2 separate regions of the Homo sapiens genome follow, and region 1 is linked to region 2. The links come from fine-mapping of genetic effects on gene expression. Tissue or cell type: testis. Region 2 holds a variant in brackets; the other region holds the start of a gene. All regions are shown on one strand. Distances are between the middles of the regions.

Region 1 (5,387 bases), 610 kb before region 2:
TTATCTCCACCAAGTCATATAAATGGAGATGCCATTATCTTTATTTTACTGATGACAAAACTGCCACTTAGAGAGTTGAAGTAATTTATGGAGAAACAACAGAAAAACTCATACTTTAAAATAAATTAACAACTTTTATCATTAAATTATGTTGTGATATTTGCATTCTAAGCTACAAACTGATACTTTTCTCTATGCATATTTACTGAAAAAAAAAAGATCCTGGGGCTGTCCACTTCCTTGGACTACATACAGTAAGTACCTTAAACCTGATTGCAAAGGGGATTACTCCAATACATCATCTATTCCTTCAGTTTATATAGTTTGTGTGTGTGTGTCAGGGAGGCAGTGGTGAAGAGATGTGGGAACACTGGTCTTTTTAATCTGAAAATTCACACATGCAGCATAAGAATGTCAACATTTTTTTTAAATCAAAACACCACAGAAGACATCTCAAGGAAAACCTTGATTCAGTGGAAACACTGTGTAGCCCAATTAAAGATAAAATAAAAATTCACAAAGACGAAATGAAATAAAGTAGGAAATTGTTCAGATCACATGCACTGGTGGTAAATAATGAGTTTTTATGAATCCAGGTAAAAGGCAGTGCTTTGACTCTTAAGAGTGCCTCTAGCACTACCATAATGTTCACTGATGCATGTTCACACCAGATCTTAAGAGCATCATGGAACCAAGTTAGACTTGATTTTTGAAAGTGGGCTGTCCATTCCACTTACTTTTGCAATAAGCTTTAGCTCTATACTAAACACATCGCGGTGTACCTTCTGTACTATTTGTCCTATAACCTAATGGTAGGAAAAATTGAAAAAGGCCCTGAATTAACTAGACTGTTTTTTTGTTTCAAGTTCACTGAATGAATAATTTAGATAAGTAATTTTCTGAGTCTTAGTTTTACATCATTTAAAATTAAATTTTTGTTTTAAGAATCATGTTAACAGCTATTATTTCATTACATTCCCAAAGCAATCTTATGGAATAAGCTGACAATGACTAATACCTCTATTTTATAGTCAAAGAATTCGAGTTTCAGAGAAATTCCTTCCATTGAGTCAAACAGAACACAGAGTGGGTTGTAGTTGATAAATATAGCCAAAATTCCACAATTTGGAATCCACAATTCCAAATATGTTATGTTTATTTATTCATTTCATCTTCACAACATCAAACACATGAAGAGGGAGCTATTATTATATCCATTTTACAGATGAGGTGACTGAGGCAGCATAAGATTAAGTATCTTGCTGAGGTTACAACTAATAAATGGCAGAGATTGAATTGAAGCTCAGACAATCTATTTCCCAAACATGTAACCACTTGACAAAACTGCCTCTCTAAGGGCGATAAACATATTAAAACCTGTGATACCCGCCTTCAGGTTATTTAGACCCTTTTACAAAAGTAGTGAAAGTATAAATCGGCTTATCATAGGAATGAGTTCTAGTTTTTTGGAAGAATATACATATTGTAATTGTAATATATATTATTTTGATGTTCCCAAATTTATCTAGTTCTTAAATTCTTGCTCTATAGGGCCTGGAGGCCAAAAATAGTCTTGCCTTACAGTATTTGAGGTTCAGACTATTAGGTCTGTGGCGTTGCAATAAAAATGTCTGTATCTGCTCCAAAACTAACCCAGGCTAGGAATATACAGGAATAGGAATTTAAATGTCCATAGGGTGCAAACCATAATTTAAAGCCACAGACCCCGAACTCCTCTACCACCTAATCTGTAAGCTCCCTTAGATTTAACCCCTTTCTCACCAAACCCAGCAATGCCTATTGGGCATGCCCAGTTGCATGGTTAGAGCCTCACACCCAGTTTTACTTTCACCAGGTTTTACCAGCTGCAAAAGGGAGGAGGAGACGGAGGGAAGAGTTAAACAGGTAGAAAACTTGGTTCAAGACAGAGCACAGAAGGCTGGAGAATGACGACAGGCTGCAGTAAAAAGCACCTTGTCAGACACAGTTGATCGTCGTCTGCAAGTTGGCATCTTACCCTGGTGGGTTCCTTTTACATCTTTTTGGCACAGCCTAGGCAAGTCATGAAGATTTGTTGTGATTACCCAAGGCAGAGCCACAGTAAGGGGTGGGGCAAGGGACATCGGATCTAGAAGAATGCCAGTGCCTGTGTGAGTCTTGCTTGCCCCTGCATTCCTCGAAAAGCTGCAGCTTCTTTTCAAGGGTTCCGAGCAGGAGACCAAGGTGCACAAGTAAAGCCAGAGCTCATCATAATTATCGACTCCTTGGCCCCTTCTCTTTGACTGCTGGACCCTTTCCTGGCACCCTCTCAGGTATCCCCGCCCAATCACTACCAAACCCCGGAGAAGTGGAATCTCCATACAGCTTTCCATGGGTCTAGCAGGGGCCTGGGCATGCTCAGTAGGCTACGTGGTTCTCTGGTTCGTGTTCGTTCGTTCTCTCTCTCTCTCTCTCTCTCTCTCTCTCTCTCTCTCTCTCTTTCTTTCTTTCCGATGGGGAAGAGAGGGTGGTGACAAGTTAGAAGCGCTTGCGGAAGGTCCCCGCCCCCAGGATCAGGCTCCCCCTGCAAGGGGACGATGCAAAGGTAAAAGCACCTCGCTCCGCAGCATCCAGACCTGGAGGGGCTGCGACCACGGGCCGAGCCCACCCATTCCCCAGCCAAAGGACGGGCCCGCCGCTCTCCATGGTACTGCGGAGAGCTCAGCTCCGCCCTTCTCTTTCAGAAGGACAGCACCCGGCGTCACGTAACCCAGCCTTCTCAGGCTCCACCACCGCCTTTTCCTTCCCAGCTCTTTCCCTCTCCTCCCCCTCCTCCTCCTTCTCCTCCTCCTCCTCCTCCTGCTCCCCTCCGTTGCCTGTTCTCCCCTCCCGCACTCCTGGAGATAGACGCTCAAGCCTGACGCCTCTGAAAAGGCAGCAGCAGTCGCCTTATCCATAGACCTCAGGAAATTCGCTTTGACCGATGCATGCTTCAGGCTCTGGCTCGAGCTGAGGGGAATAACCGGGCAGGTAAAGAAGCTCAATTTGGGTTGGGGGGAGGGGATGGGGCGAGGCAAGCTGAAGAAGGATATCTTTCCCCATTGTAACTGAGCCAGGATCTGCCACAAATACACAGGGAAAGATGGGTGGTGGGAGGGTGGAGGAGTGTAGATCTTGGTTGTTTTGCATGAAGCCTTTTAAATAGATGGCAAGAAGAGATGGTGGAACTGGGGTAGTAACTTAAAGGCTGAATGCAGTGATGTATTAGCAAAAGAAAGAAAATAAGAGACAGGCTAGATATCAAAGCAATAAAATATCTCTCCATATATTTCCTTCCCTACCTCATCAGCCCCACACTGTGCCCATCGTTAATTTGTGCAGTAGACCCCGAGCTCCAAGAAACTGCACTGGTATTAGAGATGGAGCTTAGAGACTGGGCGGGAAAGCCAGAGAGAATTTTGGCTGTGCATTGGTATTGAGAGACTTTGCAAAAGCCAGGGGTGAAATAATAAGCACTTCTAAAATTTCTCTCAGAGATTTCATGTTCTTTATGAAGATATATATATATATTGAAGGGTGCATGGAAAGGTGTAGGTGTGTATGTGTGTGTGATATCAGAAACATTAAAATATGCAACTGCAGCCGATGAGCGTACTGTATTGATCCTCCTAGTGACTTGGGATGAATTTGATTCTAGAAATGAAAGAAAAGATTAATGATGCTGTTAGTCTGCTTTTGAATTAGAGCGCTTCTTCTTTTGGCTGCAGTAAGGATGTTTTTCAGATCCCTTTATTTCATCCTCTAATTTGTGAACTGGCCAGGTCTTTCTGGCACCTAGAGAGAATCCTCTTTTCTCCATATAAATACAGATACTCGCTCACATACAATGAGCTTCCTCCAAGAACTGGGAAAACCAGTTAACCTCCCTGTGATAAGAATGTATATATATCTATATGTACATATATATTGCTCTACGGTTTTTCTCTCTTCCACCATCCCTTAAAATTGTCAAGGTGTGCATTAGTGGAGGAGGGCAGGAGGGACGGGAGAAAAAAGGTTATGTGATCAATGTAACATTAATTAATACAATAATTGGCTCCAACAGAGTTACACACACAAGAAAAAAAAAAAGGTTTTCTAACACATGAGCTTGAGAAAGGGTTCAAAGCACTACTCTTGATCATGATATTCCAGATTTATTTTGCAAATGACTGAAAATTTAGCAGATTCCTGAGTCCACTTAAAATATGAAAGTATACTGAATAATATGCTATTTCAGATGATTTGACGAGCCTCTTTCCTCGGGTTTGATATAGGAGAAGACAAGATATGACTGGTGATTGCTGATGGTGTGGAATGTATCAGCCATAATAAATAAGCAACTGAGATTTTTATTTCCTTTTGCTAGTGGGCAGTGTGTATGTGCGCACACCCACACTGTGTGTGTGTGTGTGTGTGTGTGTGTGTGTGTGTGTTGAAAGAGAGAGAACCAGTCATCAATTTCATCTGGGAGGAACTTGAAGTGGGATACCCTAGCTTGGTGGCTCTCAGCTGACACCTGTGGGGATTGCTCTGTACTGAAGAGAAATGCTCTCAGCTCCCCCCATGGAGAAGCAGCAGCACAATGCGGTGCCATAAATTACTGCTAGTTTCAGCTTGTAAGGGAAAAAAAGTGTTAATTGGGTAGTGAGCTTCTACATCCAGACAATAAATTTGGGGTGTGTGTGTGCATGTGTGTATGGTGTATATATATTGCAGTGTGTGTGTTTGCAAGAGGTGGGGAATATAAGAAATAGTGAGAAAAATAATGCACTTCCTTGACATGAACAGATTATACATTTGTAATTTTTTTCAAAAGGTAAGAGTAATTTTTTGGTTAAAAAATGACTTAGGAAAAAAATCAGTGATTATGATTTCTGTACCATTTCAAGAACCTGTCAGATTAGAGTTGAATAAAGAGAAGTGATTTAATAGTATAGTGAGTGATTCAAAGGTACGGTTTTAAATTCTAGCATCCTGGAGCCACTGCAGCTGAGATGACATACATGCCAACAGCTCTTCTGACCACACAAATTGTGAGGGCTGACAGCAAGATACAGACTTCAGGAGGAGTTAGATCTACACTTTTAGGCAAAATATTAAATACTTTATGCACCTTTAGAGAAGTTAATATTAGGGCAATTGAGACAATGCCAAAAACATAAATCTGGCTCCAATTAGTGGTTTTCTTTTACAACAGATTATTCATTAATATAAAGGAGAACTATACTTGTGTGAAATTTTGCAAGAGACTATCAAGAAACCATCAATATTCCTTCTAAGAAAAATAAAATGGCAGGAATGCTATACAAGTCTAAGCTGGCAGCTTCCTGCCAACAGTTTAATCTAATTTGCCAATTGTAAAATCT
Region 2 (5,387 bases):
AATTCTCAGTGCTATGTTTAGTCTCTTTTATTCCTTCCCCAAATCCTCTTTATCTCTGCTGTCTCATTCTCTTTAATTTAGATTTTCATTACACGTGTAAGGCTGGCCAGATCACGTGTTCTGTTTTAGCCATGCATTCAGATGTATTTGGTGGGATGCAGAAGCATTAGCTGGGATACAGTGGAGGATTATTTCAGTGTTATTGGTACCAAGTAAAACTGAGGTTTCAAAAAGAAGTGTGTCTATTTAAGTGTAAAATTCACTAACCATCTCTCATAAAAGCATATAATGGGAGGAGATACAAATATATATTTTCTGTTTTCATGGTGGAGAATTTTTGTTTTAATGTTTTTACATTACAAAGGATAAAGTTTAAGTATTTCCAATTTACTCAAACTATTGTATGTATGCAAATTTGTAAGATACACCCACCTGCCTACTTTCTTTATCTCCGTTTCTTTTTTCCTTCCTTCTCATTTTCTTCCTTATTGCCTCCCTTCCTTTCTTTTTTCTTTCCCACTGAGAAATAATGAAAATTGGACAAAAATGCAAAAGAATACCCAAAATTTCATCAGTATACTACCAGACACTAGTTATTACTTGGATGATAATGGCATTTGCATTATTAGCAAGAAATACTTTTAATATTGGGCTAGAATGAATCTAATGAGATTGCAGGTCAGGGTCCAGCTGATGCAGAGATGAATTATTCGCTGTGAAACTTTAGCCAAGCAACCAAACTGTCACATGCTGTGTCTAAGAACTGATACTTGCAGTCCAAAACTCATTACCAAGTATGTCTTCTGAAAGATATGATTCTTCTGAAAGATACGATTGCCTTAATCTCTTTCAGATATACTATTTATTTAAGCCTGCAGTTCATTGCCTTAAGAGTGTGATGATTTTACACCTATGTATCAAACCTGGAGAAATTGACAGATCAAATGGGAACATCTGATTTAAAAGTGTGATTCAGAAGTCATTGAGTTCATTCATTTGATGACAATTTTGGGGCAAATCATGGCCCCTTCCTCAATTGTGTATTTTGTCTTCACTTATGGAATTGATTTGAAAATATTCAAAGGAGAGTCAAAGATTTTTGTAACTTAACTACAATAAAAATATGATTTAAATGATAAAAAGCTTAAAATAAAAAAGATTTTTGTAACTTAAATATGATAAAAATATGATAAACCACTTATGCCTTTAAACATGTTAATAGACATACTCAGAGTAGATTAATGGATTTGCCATATATATTTTAATATTTTTATTACTATAGCATCTAAGGTATTTAAAAATATATGCATATTTTGCCTGTGTTTGAGACTGATTCCTCTGCTACAGCATAAACATTGATAATGGTGTGAAAATATTTTGTATTTCCCTTGATCCCTGGATGAATTTGCTCAATACCAAGGGAGTTCTCCTGTACAAGGGTATGCCTTTTTAAAAATTTGCTTTTAATGAAAATTTTAAAATCAGAGAGAGAATAATTGTTGAATGATGATTGAGCTAATCAAAATGTACTGGGCTTTCTGAAAAGACACTAATCTAAGTTCCTGCCAAATACAAAGCACCGCTCCCTTTCTCCGTTCCAGTCACTCAAAGAAATAACTTTATTTGGAGATTTTACAATTGTTAGATCTGTAATACACATTTATGATTTGCAGCATCTAAAATAAAACAGCTGTGTGTGTTGGGGGAGGCTGCAAGGAGGGTACACCATGTGTTGAGGAATGAGTCTGAACCACATTTATACTTGGTGAAACTTGTTGGGATAGTTGCACATTCATTCTTGGTGAAACTTTTTGAGCCTGTTCAGGACTCAGTGGAGATTCCTGCTTGCTTTAGAGATATAAGAAGAGGCACGTGCTCAGTGAACCAAGAAGGAAACCCCTCCCTACATTCCATCGGTCACTTGTTTCATCTCCTAAATAACTCTCAAGTACAAAGGAAATAAAATCCTTTTGATTTTATTTTTCCTCCAGCTTCTACCCTGGTTCAGGTCATCATCATGGTGACCTCTCGGTTAGACCTCTGGAAGAACTAGTAATCTTTCTAAAATGCACATTTGGTCATTTTATTTTTCTGCTTAAAACTTCTCAGTACTCCGTTCCTCCACCTTGCCTTCAGGATGGTCCTTCTTAATCCACATGTGATATTTTAGCCTTCTTATCTGTGCAGCCCCATCTATCCCTTATTCCTTCTTTACATTTTATACTTCTCTTTGTGATCCTGCACTTTTCGGTTTCTTGGATGTGCGTTCTTTTGGACTTTGTTGCTTTTTCAGTACATTTCTTCTTTGTTTCTTTAATTTTTACTCTTTTTCCAGGCCTCAATTCAAATGTTACTGCCTCAAGAAAGCCTTGCCTTCTCCCTCCCCACCAAACAAGTTATGTCCCCTTCCTATGTGCTTTAACAGGGTTTTCACACTTATTTAGAATTGTGATAGCTAGGTTATTTGTAAAGCCATCAGACTCTGTAGGAGCTTGGAATTTGTCTTCTGGACCAAGCACAGTGCAAATCCCTACTACCAAGCAGAATGTCAGGGATACAGCAGAATACCTAGGACCAAGCAGAATATCAGGGTTTTAACATTGTCAAAAATCATGGATGGCTTCCTTCTCTTCAGAGAAATTTTAGTCTTCTTCATTCGTAGTGAAGCAGAAGCTTTAGGAAAACAAAAGATGCAGTGAGAAGTCAAAAAGTTACTCTGCTGCCCCTTTTATTCTGTACCCAATAAAATAGTACACAGCATTCAGATATT[T/G]CTACATTGAATTGAACTTCCTCTTTATAAAACTTTGGCTTGAAATGTGTATCCAGATCAAGAGCACACTGTCTTCCTTTTCTCAATCTTGTGGAGGATGGGTTGAGGAGGCAGGCAGATACAGATACAACTGGACATCTGCTTGTAAGGAAAACTGGTTTGACCGCTTTTATAAAACATGACTGGAGGCAGAAATGAAATTCAGTCTCAATCTCTTTCCTCATTCAAGGTAGGTTTAATGGGTGGGTCCCTTCTTCATTTTTTATGTAACTGTAAAAAGGAAACCGTTACTGTTTTTTGATTAAGATTTCAAAATGAATCTGTGTAAATATTGCAGTTTCATTTACTGCACTAATGCAAAATATAACTTTCTGAAAAAGGTATACACATATCCTAAACAATAGTTTACATGGTTTGGCTGTGTCCCCACCGAAATCTCATCTTTAATTGTAGTTCTTGTAATCCTCAAGGGTCGTGGAAGGGACCTGGTGGGAGGTAATTGAATAATGGGGGTGGTAACCCCCATGCCACTGATAGTGAGTGAGTTCTCACACGATCTGATGGTTTTATAAGGGGCTTTTCCCTCTTTGCTTGGGACTTCTCCTTCCTGCCATCATGTGAAGAAGGACATGTTTGCTTCCCCTTCTGCCTGATTATAAATTTCCTGAGGCCTTCCCAGCCATGCAGATCTGTGAGTCAATTAAACCTCTTCCTTTATAAATTACCCAGTCTTGGGCATTTCTTTATAGGAGTGTGAGAACAGACTAATACAATAGTGAAAATGTATAATATATTATTTTCATATGTCTCCTAAAATAGAAGGAAATAGAAATTATTAATTTTATGGTGAGTGAAATAGAGCATAAGACCAAAGGGATATTTGGGGAGGTCACCTGGGACTGGTAGAGGGAACACAAAGCTTAAGGTAGGTACAGAGGCCAGCAGTCACATTAGTGTTTCTCAGCTTTCTTTGCGCATTTTGTTCTCCCAACCTTTTACTTTCCTGCCTTCCTCCTGTCTCCTTTCTTGGTATATTTTATTTGCTCAGTGAGGCCTTTCTTACCCTATTAACATTTACAATCACTTCCACCACTTCCAATTCTCTCTCTTTATTGCTCTGTTTTCCCCCATAGTACAGAATACAATTGATCTTATTATATAGCTTAGTTATTCTGTTTATTGCCCATCTGTCTCCACTGAAGTATAAGCTCTTTGAGGGAAGGAACTGTTGACTGTATTGCTCACCATGGTATTCCCAGTGGCTAGGATAGGGCTACCATATAGGAGGTACTAAACAAATTCTTTTTGAATGAACAAATCAATGGTACTAGTCCAAGCTTTTTTTTTTTTTTTTTTGTATGTTGTTGAATAACTACTAACAGTTGGCCATAAAAATAGGAATATAGAATTTGAAAGTGATTCACAGTGATGAAACTACAAGCCTCTACAGAGTTTGTCTATTTTTTTCTGTTTTTTTTTAATGTAATTTAGCATATCACATTGTGAGAGACTATGTCACAAGATCTTCTTGAATTAATGCAAAAAGATGTAACTACGAGTGATAAGGTATTGGTCCTGGACTCAATATTTATGATGATGTGTGGTTATTTACAGTTAGAGAGACTTGTGCATTTTTATACCCTAGCTGATTTTATGTTAAAACAAATGTAAATGGTGGTTAAGACATCTCTATGGCTAATATTTCACATGCCTCCAGTGAGACCATAGCCTAATATGCTGTGGATCTGAAGTGTAAATTCAAATCATTATCCATGCTTCATCAGAACATTTGCAGACTCTATGCAGCGTGTGCTAGAAATGTTGGAGCAAATGATATCTTTATCACAGCTTCTGATCATCACATGATGAGACAGCGCATTTCCACCAATTCATAGTGCACTTTGTCAATCTAGTGAAGAGAAAATACAATGATTAAATTATATTTGAGCCATAAAAAAATACACCTTACACTGCAACCTCTGGTGTCTGGTTGCTAAAGTTAATAGAAAATGAGTTCTGTGAAAGGGAAAGTGCATTAATCTGTGGAGTTAAAAATAACTTTAACTGTAATTTAATGTATTTAATGTGAACTACCTTGTTATTTTTATTTTATAGAAAGACCTTCAGTTAGTAATGATTATCTTCTTTTTTCAATTTTAAAAGCACTAAAACTCATTGCCTACTCCCTGCTTCTATGAAGTCCTTCCTATGTACCATTCCACAGTTTTTGTCATTGTCTTTACTCCTTCATGTAGAACTATGTTTAATGTGCCTGATCCATGTCATAGTTATGAAGTGACAAGAGAGTAATGGGAAAGATGAAGGGTGTCCATTGAAAGAGCTTCAGTAAAAATTTTAATTGTAAATTATTTCTGTTATATATGTATGGTTTGTTTCTGAAATTAATAGGTTTCAAATGAAATTTTCTTAAGTTCAACATAGTCTCCCTTCTCAATTTTTACAGTTTATTGATATATTTGGTATTACGAACGTTCATATGACAAAATTGATGCACTTTAAAATTAATATAGAAATTCAAAATGTACTTTTAAAGGTTATACAACCTCAAAACACTCTCCTTTTTAAATGGTTATAGTATATACATTAAATTTTTCTT

Alleles and levels. Positions count from the first base shown, and alleles are read on the strand shown. Sizes are in standard deviations (SD) of each study's normalised expression.
With allele T in place of G in region 2, the expression in testis of the gene that starts at base 2,858 in region 1 is lower (moderate effect, 0.53 SD a copy in GTEx).

What was found. PIP is the estimated chance that this variant, and not a neighbour inherited with it, causes the effect.
Region 1: NRXN1 starts here. The variant in region 2 is fine-mapped to the expression of NRXN1 in testis (GTEx, PIP above 0.99).

The regions. Positions count from the first base shown.
Region 1 is chr2:51,029,603-51,034,989 of GRCh38, reverse strand. It overlaps NRXN1 (neurexin 1), which reads left to right and starts at 2,858. Exons shown (of 23, transcript NM_001330078.2): 1 at 2,858-3,009. It overlaps NRXN1-DT (NRXN1 divergent transcript), which reads right to left and starts at 2,389. Exons shown (of 11, transcript NR_135237.1): 1 at 1,974-2,389.
Region 2 is chr2:50,414,695-50,420,081 of GRCh38, reverse strand. All of the region lies in intron 17 of NRXN1 (neurexin 1), which reads left to right. Among named protein-coding and RNA genes, the nearest start is that of MIR8485, 280 kb to the left of the region's middle. The variant T/G (reference allele first, on the strand shown) is at 2,771.